Regions from separate parts of the Homo sapiens genome. Here region 1 is reported to be linked to region 2. Evidence: microRNA targets listed by miRTarBase, many of them from high-throughput screens and not tested one by one. Region 2 holds a microRNA gene; the other region holds the end of a gene's coding sequence.
What was found. The annotated mature microRNA hsa-miR-3192-5p reads UCUGGGAGGUUGUAGCAGUGGAA and lies in region 2 at 1,390-1,412, shown strand. An mRNA with a match to its seed (bases 2 to 7 or 8) in the 3' UTR can be bound and repressed. Matches are read on the target gene's strand: a 7mer-m8 pairs with bases 2 to 8, a 7mer-A1 pairs with bases 2 to 7 and ends in A, and an 8mer does both.

Region 1 (4,056 bases), not on the chromosome of region 2:
AATATATATCGATATATATATTTGTGACATATGTCATGGTGACAGGGAAAAGTTGACAAATTCATGCATTTGAAAATCTTTTAGAACTAAATTAGTAACAATACAGGCATGTGGATAAGCTTAATGCTTATGAGGGGGAGAAAGTTTCAAATGATTAGTCTTTTCAACAAACAGTAACTTTGTACTGCTTGTCGGGCACTGTTCTCACCACTGAGACACACAGGTAAGAAGATGCAGCCACTGCCCTCATGAAGTATTTGTTCTACTGGTATCATATTTTGGTGCACTTCATTCTTGGCTCCATACCTGGAGACAAGGTTGGACTGCCATCTTTTCTGTTTACTCTAGGTACATCGAGGAGGCCATTGAGAAACTAAGCAAGCGGCACCAGTACCACATCCGTGCCTATGATCCCAAGGGAGGCCTGGACAATGCCCGACGTCTAACTGGATTCCATGAAACCTCCAACATCAACGACTTTTCTGCTGGTGTAGCCAATCGTAGCGCCAGCATACGCATTCCCCGGACTGTTGGCCAGGAGAAGAAGGGTTACTTTGAAGATCGTCGCCCCTCTGCCAACTGCGACCCCTTTTCGGTGACAGAAGCCCTCATCCGCACGTGTCTTCTCAATGAAACCGGCGATGAGCCCTTCCAGTACAAAAATTAAGTGGACTAGACCTCCAGCTGTTGAGCCCCTCCTAGTTCTTCATCCCACTCCAACTCTTCCCCCTCTCCCAGTTGTCCCGATTGTAACTCAAAGGGTGGAATATCAAGGTCGTTTTTTTCATTCCATGTGCCCAGTTAATCTTGCTTTCTTTGTTTGGCTGGGATAGAGGGGTCAAGTTATTAATTTCTTCACACCTACCCTCCTTTTTTTCCCTATCACTGAAGCTTTTTAGTGCATTAGTGGGGAGGAGGGTGGGGAGACATAACCACTGCTTCCATTTAATGGGGTGCACCTGTCCAATAGGCGTAGCTATCCGGACAGAGCACGTTTGCAGAAGGGGGTCTCTTCTTCCAGGTAGCTGAAAGGGGAAGACCTGACGTACTCTGGTTAGGTTAGGACTTGCCCTCGTGGTGGAAACTTTTCTTAAAAAGTTATAACCAACTTTTCTATTAAAAGTGGGAATTAGGAGAGAAGGTAGGGGTTGGGAATCAGAGAGAATGGCTTTGGTCTCTTGCTTGTGGGACTAGCCTGGCTTGGGACTAAATGCCCTGCTCTGAACACGAAGCTTAGTATAAACTGATGGATATCCCTACCTTGAAAGAAGAAAAGGTTCTTACTGCTTGGTCCTTGATTTATCACACAAAGCAGAATAGTATTTTTATATTTAAATGTAAAGACAAAAAACTATATGTATGGTTTTGTGGATTATGTGTGTTTTGCTAAAGGAAAAAACCATCCAGGTCACGGGGCACCAAATTTGAGACAAATAGTCGGATTAGAAATAAAGCATCTCATTTTGAGTAGAGAGCAAGGGAAGTGGTTCTTAGATGGTGATCTGGGATTAGGCCCTCAAGACCCTTTTGGGTTTCTGCCCTGCCCACCCTCTGGAGAAGGTGGGCACTGGATTAGTTAACAGACAACACGTTACTAGCAGTCACTTGATCTCCGTGGCTTTGGTTTAAAAGACACACTTGTCCACATAGGTTTAGAGATAAGAGTTGGCTGGTCAACTTGAGCATGTTACTGACAGAGGGGGTATTGGGGTTATTTTCTGGTAGGAATAGCATGTCACTAAAGCAGGCCTTTTGATATTAAATTTTTTAAAAAGCAAAATTATAGAAGTTTAGATTTTAATCAAATTTGTAGGGTTTCTAGGTAATTTTTACAGAATTGCTTGTTTGCTTCAACTGTCTCCTACCTCTGCTCTTGGAGGAGATGGGGACAGGGCTGGAGTCAAAACACTTGTAATTTTGTATCTTGATGTCTTTGTTAAGACTGCTGAAGAATTATTTTTTTTCTTTTATAATAAGGAATAAACCCCACCTTTATTCCTTCATTTCATCTACCATTTTCTGGTTCTTGTGTTGGCTGTGGCAGGCCAGCTGTGGTTTTCTTTTGCCATGACAACTTCTAATTGCCATGTACAGTATGTTCAAAGTCAAATAACTCCTCATTGTAAACAAACTGTGTAACTGCCCAAAGCAGCACTTATAAATCAGCCTAACATAAGATCTCTCTGATGTGTTTGTGATTCTTTCAAATCCCTATGTGCCATTATATTTCTTTATTTCCTAAAACAGGCAAAATAAGCTCAAGTTTATGTACTCTGAGTTTTTAAAACACTGGAGTGATGTTGCTGACCAGCCGTTTCCTGTACCTCTCTAAGTTGGGTATTTGGGACTTAAGGGATTAAGTTTTTCACCTAGACTTAGTTACACACAATCTTGGCATTTCCTAGCCTAGAGGTTTGTAGCAGGGTACAAGCCCCACTCCTCCCCCTTCCTTTGCTCCCCTGAGTTTGGTTTTGGCTTACCATAACATTGTTTTGACCATTCCTAGCCTAATACAATAGCCTAACATAATGTAAGATTAACTGGCTTTACGATTTCTATTCTCTGCTCTCAGTGATAAGAAACAAATATTAGCTACCCTGCTACCCTGGTTGAAGCCTTCCAAGGCTGGCTATGCCCTAGGCATGGGCTCATCCTTGGGTGTATCTTGCCTTGCAGGAAGACCAGTGGACCGATTGTGATTCTCAAAAGCTCTGTGTTGTCACCTGTGCCCTTGCCCCTTGCTCTTATCTTGGTCCGTGTATCTGGGAGTTCTTCCACCTTATCTTGGCCAATTCCTACCTTCGTTCATTCCTCATGAGGTTGGGTAAAAGCTCCCTCCGGCTCCCATGATGCTGTGCATATACCTAGCAAAAAGCAATTATTGGACACATTGGAGTGCAATATTATTAATAGCATTAATACTACTAATAATGTGGGCAATAGTGATTGTTTTTAAAAGGCAGTATACTCTTACCAGTGCGAGGTAGCTGGGGCCTGTGATAGTTTTTAGAGATAAGTTCTTCAGGCAACTGTGTATTTTACACTAGTCAAGTAATCCTAGATATCCGTGGTTTTTCTTAAGAAAGTTGGCTCGTAATATGATTTAATATTCAAAGTAGAGTCATCTACCTATTAGCTTGCTGGCGTGGTCCTAGTTTATGCCTGTTTCAGCATGATTGTTGAGTACCCTGTTTCATCCTTAGCATTTTCTTGATTTTGTTGTTAAATGATGTATACCCTTATTTCCATTGAATCTGTGCTTCCACCCCCCCAACTGAAGTTGTCTTCCCTTTGCTTGGCCACCCTTACAGCCTCTTGGATGGTGTATCCTACAGTGTAAGCACTAAACTGAAGAGGCAGTGACCTGAGCACTTTGGATTTTGTTCATTGTAATCAATTCCATGACAAAATGATTGCATGAGAAGGAATTTTAAATTCATAGGATCAGAATTTAGGTGAAAACAACCAGCATATTTGTTTCTTCACCCTCTCACCTAGAATTAGCTTTGACCTACAGGTCACAGTGCAATCCCCTTGTATTTCTAAGGTGTTTTTTATAGTTCATTTGCAGACAATGGGTTATGTGATAACTTTTATCAGTGATAGATTAAACAGAATAATGACCAAGCTTTCAACCTTAAGGAGTCAGGCCAGTATTTACAAAAGGAGGTCTCCATGAACTCCTTAAATATGAGTTCCCCTAATATCATCTTGCCAGGTACTAAATAACAACTGATAGCACAAGCTATAGGGAATTTGAAAGAATTCCATGGATGGGTGTTGTCTAGGGCCTTTTGTTGTTTTTGAGACGGGGTCTGACTCTCACCCAGGCTGGAGTATAGTGTGGCGCAATCTTGGCTCACTGCAACTTCTGCCTCCCAGATTCAAGCGATTCTCCTGCCTCAGCCTCCCAAGTAGCTGAGACTACAGGTGTGCACCACCATGCTCAGCTAATTTTTGTATTTTTAGTACAGATGGGGTTTCACCATGTTGGCCAGGCTGGTCTTGAACTCCTGATCTCCCAAAGTGAGGTCTTGAACTGGTCTTGAACTCCTC
Region 2 (4,069 bases):
CATTTTGAATTGGTGAACGGAGTAAAGTAGATATGGGTCCAGTTGGGTGAGCATCATCCAATCCATTCAGGGCCTAAATAGAACAAAGTGGCAGAGGAAGATTGAATTCACTCTTTGAATTCAATCTTGAGCTGGGCTATGAATCTTGTGCCCTCAGCACTCCTGGTTCTCAGACCTTCAGACTTGGACTGGTATCTACACCATCAGCTCTCTGCTCTCAGCCCTTTGATCTGCAACACCAGCTTTCCTGGGTCTCCAGCTTGCAGAGGGCAGATGATGGGACTCCTCAGCCTCCATAATCACAGAGCAAATAGCTTCTGATGAATCTTTCAAGAGGGAGGTGTATCCTATTGGTTCTTTTTCTCTGGAGAACCCTAATACAGCAGTCATAAAACGAGAAAGTGTGTTAGGTTTGACTGATAAGACTCTAAACCAGGAAACAGCTCAAACTACCTGAATTGAAAAAAGAAGAAATAATTATGCGTTATAAGACAAATGAAATAAATGTATTATGGTATAACTGTTGTATTTATTAATTGCCACTGCCATACATAGGTCTAGTCTGTTCTCACCTTCTGTTTGCTTCCTACTGCTGGTGTTGGGCCATTTCCCATAAAATATTCCACCCCCCGATTTTCCTATGAGTTGTCACAGAGCCCAGTCATCAGGGTTTCATTCTCCACATTGTCACTCTGAGCATTTCAGGAAGCAAGAATGAGTCCAGTTGAATGAAGAATGTTGGGCTTTGGGGAGGAAGTGCAGCCTTAGCCCCCAGTGACATTGCAATGGAATTTATCAGTGAAGCCATTCTCCATCTGTCCAGAAACAAACAAGCAAGACTGTCTAAAAACCCACCAAGTGGTGCCGATGCTCTAAATCTCCCTTACTTTCCCTCATCACCAAAACATCCTTTTCCTAAGAGCATTTCAGTTTGGCTTTAGTAGCAGTTAGGTTAAAGAGTTCTACGCCAAGGCCTCATCTGAATGACTGATTTGTTTTTTAAGTCTACTAGCCTTGTTGGATTTCCAAGGGCTCTGGATGTGGAGATTTGGGGTCCGATGAATCTTTTCTTAAACCTTTCCCATCAATTTTCTAGCTCAGGAGTTGGCAAACTTTTTCTATAAAGTGCCAGACAGTATATGTTTTAGGCTTTGTGAGCCATATGATTTCTGTCACAACTACACTGTCATTTTAGCAAGAAGCAGCCATGGATGATGATACATAAACAAATGGCTACAGCCATGTTCCAACAAAACTTTGGTTATAAAAACAAGCTGTGGAGCAGATTGCTCACCCCTGTTCTAGCCCAAGGACAAAGGAATGTTGCTGATTTCTAGTTATTTCACTGTGGTGAAGGTCTTCAGCTCTAGGAAAGACAGAGGAAGGGATTCTGGGAGGTTGTAGCAGTGGAAAAAGTTCTTTTCTTCCTCTGATCGCCCTCTCAGCTCTTTCCTTCTGACTGAAAATCATCTTCAGCACCTCTCTTTTACCACCTCTGCCACCACCCACCCACTGCGAGTCCTATTGGCTATAGGTTGTATGCAGGCAGTAGTAGAGCTATCAAAGGATATTAAGAAAGGGAGTGATTATTAATAAATCATGTAATGTTTCTGATTTTAGCTCTTAAAAACAGTTCTTAAATTTGCTGTCCACACCCCCTCCATTTCTATCCCTGGTACTGCATCATGTTCAGGCTCATGGCTTTTACCTGGACAGCTGCAGTAGCATCTTAACTGGTTTCCATGACTCCATCTGTCTCAGAGAAGCCAGCCTGATTTGGGATTACAGTCATGAGCCACCGAGCCTGGCCCCTGATCTGTCTTAAATGCAGGTCTGACCAAGGCACTCTACCACCTACAATTTGTTTATACTGGAGATTCAAGTTCAAACTCCTGGGTTTCCCACACTGAGTCCCTGCATTGTTCACCAGCCTCATCTCCACCACTCTACTTCAAAAGTTAGGTTTCAGGAGGAGCAGATTGTTTTTGGTTTCTGGCCACATCATGCTGTTTCGTGCCACAGGACTCATGTTGTTCCCCTGCTTAGAAGGTTCTTCTTATTCTTTACAGATGACTAACGCATTAGGACTCAACTCTGCCATTGTCTCCAGGAAGTCACTGAACCCCCCCAGGTTGGGCCGCAGCCTGTTCTCCGAGTACCCAATCTGGGAGTTCAGGGTGGCTTTACTTACCTCTATCTTAATGCCAACCAGATGGGTATTGAAGTCACCTGTGTGTTTCCCTTTTAGAATTAATGTTGTTCCCCCAAACACCTATCATAACACCTGGCACAGTACAAGTATTCAGTAAATATTCATAAGCTGGATAAATGACCAGAGCCTCTGGATTGGGCCTTGTAGTCCTACTTTGCCACTTCGTGGGGTCAGGGAACAGGAGTGTGTCACTGTTCATTCAGTATGTAAATCCATTTCCAAGTCATGAGTGTCTGTTTTAAAACAAGGGAATGGGCTGGGCACAGTGGCTCCTGCCAGTAATCCCAGCACTTTGGGAGGCCGAGGTAGGCGGATCACTAGAGGCCAGGAGTTCAAGATCAGCCTGGCCAACATGGCCTAACCCTATCTCTACTAAAATACAAATATCAGCGTGGCATGGTGGCATACACCTGTAATGCTAGCTACTTGGGAGGCTGAGGCACGAGAATCGCATGAACCCGGGAGGCAGAGGTTGCAGTGAGCCGAGATTGTGCCACGGCACACCAGCCTGGGTGACAGAGTGAGACTCTGTCTCTAAATAAATACATAAATAAACAAGGGAATAGCGTCCCTCTCAACTGTGGCTTTCTAGTACTTCCAGAGCCTAGTGGTATAATTATCTGGGTTCTCTTAAGTTCGGACCCAAGGAAATTCAGGAGCATGACAGACATACTTTATTTTACTTTTGATTTGCTATATAAAAACAATACTACTCTAGTCCTTTTATTCATTGGCTGACTTCAGTAAATGTCACTGTTAACTTTTTTTGTTTTTTGTTTTGTTTGTTTTTTGCTTTTCAAGATGGAGTCTTGCTCTGTTGCCCAGGCTGGAGTGCAGTGGTGCGATCTCAGCTCAGCCTTCCATGTAGCCGGGACTACAGGCGCATGCCACTGCACCTGGCTAATTTTTGTATTTTTAGTAGAGACAGGTTTTCGCCATGTTAGCCAGGCTGGTCTCAAACTCTTGACCTCAAATGGACCACCTGCCTTGACCTCCCAAAGTGCTGAGATTACAGGTGTGAGCCACCACGCCCAGCCATTAACTTTATAAATTTTATTTTTCACTGTGCAACAGAATATGCCTATTTAGTCTTTATTTCAACTTTTTATTTATATAAATTATATTTTTATTTTATATATGTAATTTGGATTTATATTGATTTTTAATATAGATTGTTATTCTCAAGCTGCTTTTTAAAAATTCTTTATGCATTGATCATATAACCAAGCCAAGATCTAGCCTACAGGAAATTGTTAGTGATATTTTGAAAAATTTTGAGATTAAAGAGCAGGTTTTGAAAAATTAAGAATGTTAAAGAATGCATCAACATTTGTCATTTGATTTAACATATCTCCAAAATAACTGACTCCTGTTTTCTACTGTCTTAAAAACTAGGGTCAGTTGGATCTCTTAAGGAGCAATACGGGCCTTTTATATAGAATAAAGGACTCTCAGAATGCTGGGTAAGTACTTGTTTTTTTAATTTTAAGAAAATGTTTATTATTTGCAAACGTATGTGTTGGGAATAAAGCTAATACAAAATTACATAAACCTGTCCTGTGTATCATCCCTGCCTCCTATGATATATTCCATTTCCCAGAGGTAACTGCTCTTAATAATTTAGTGTATATCCTTTCTTCTAGCTATATATAAATACACATAGATGATTATATATTTATATATAATCTTTCTCTTTTTTTTTTAACAAAAATGGAATCATGCTATCCATTCTGTTTTGCAATTTGTTTTTTTCACTTACTGTATCTTGGACATCTTTTCATGTTGGTACACACAGCTCTGTCTCATTCTATTTAAGGTAAGCCTTTCTTTTGGTAAATATGTCACTGTGGTGACCTT

Region 1: the mRNA of GLUL is a reported target of hsa-miR-3192-5p. Seed matches in the 3' UTR shown: 7mer-m8 at 732-738 and 8mer at 3,876-3,883.

Annotation. Positions count from the first base shown.
Region 1 is chr1:182,381,016-182,385,071 of GRCh38, reverse strand. It overlaps GLUL (glutamate-ammonia ligase), which reads left to right. Exons shown (of 7, transcript NM_001033044.4): 7 at 349-4,056. The coding sequence ends at 667. Among named protein-coding and RNA genes, the nearest start is that of GLUL, 8.7 kb to the left of the region's middle. RefSeq lists a silencer at 3,604-3,898.
Region 2 is chr20:18,469,235-18,473,303 of GRCh38, forward strand. It overlaps MIR3192 (microRNA 3192), which reads left to right and starts at 1,381; the gene lies at 1,381-1,457. POLR3F (RNA polymerase III subunit F) reads left to right here. Exons shown (of 9, transcript NM_006466.4): 3 at 3,608-3,675.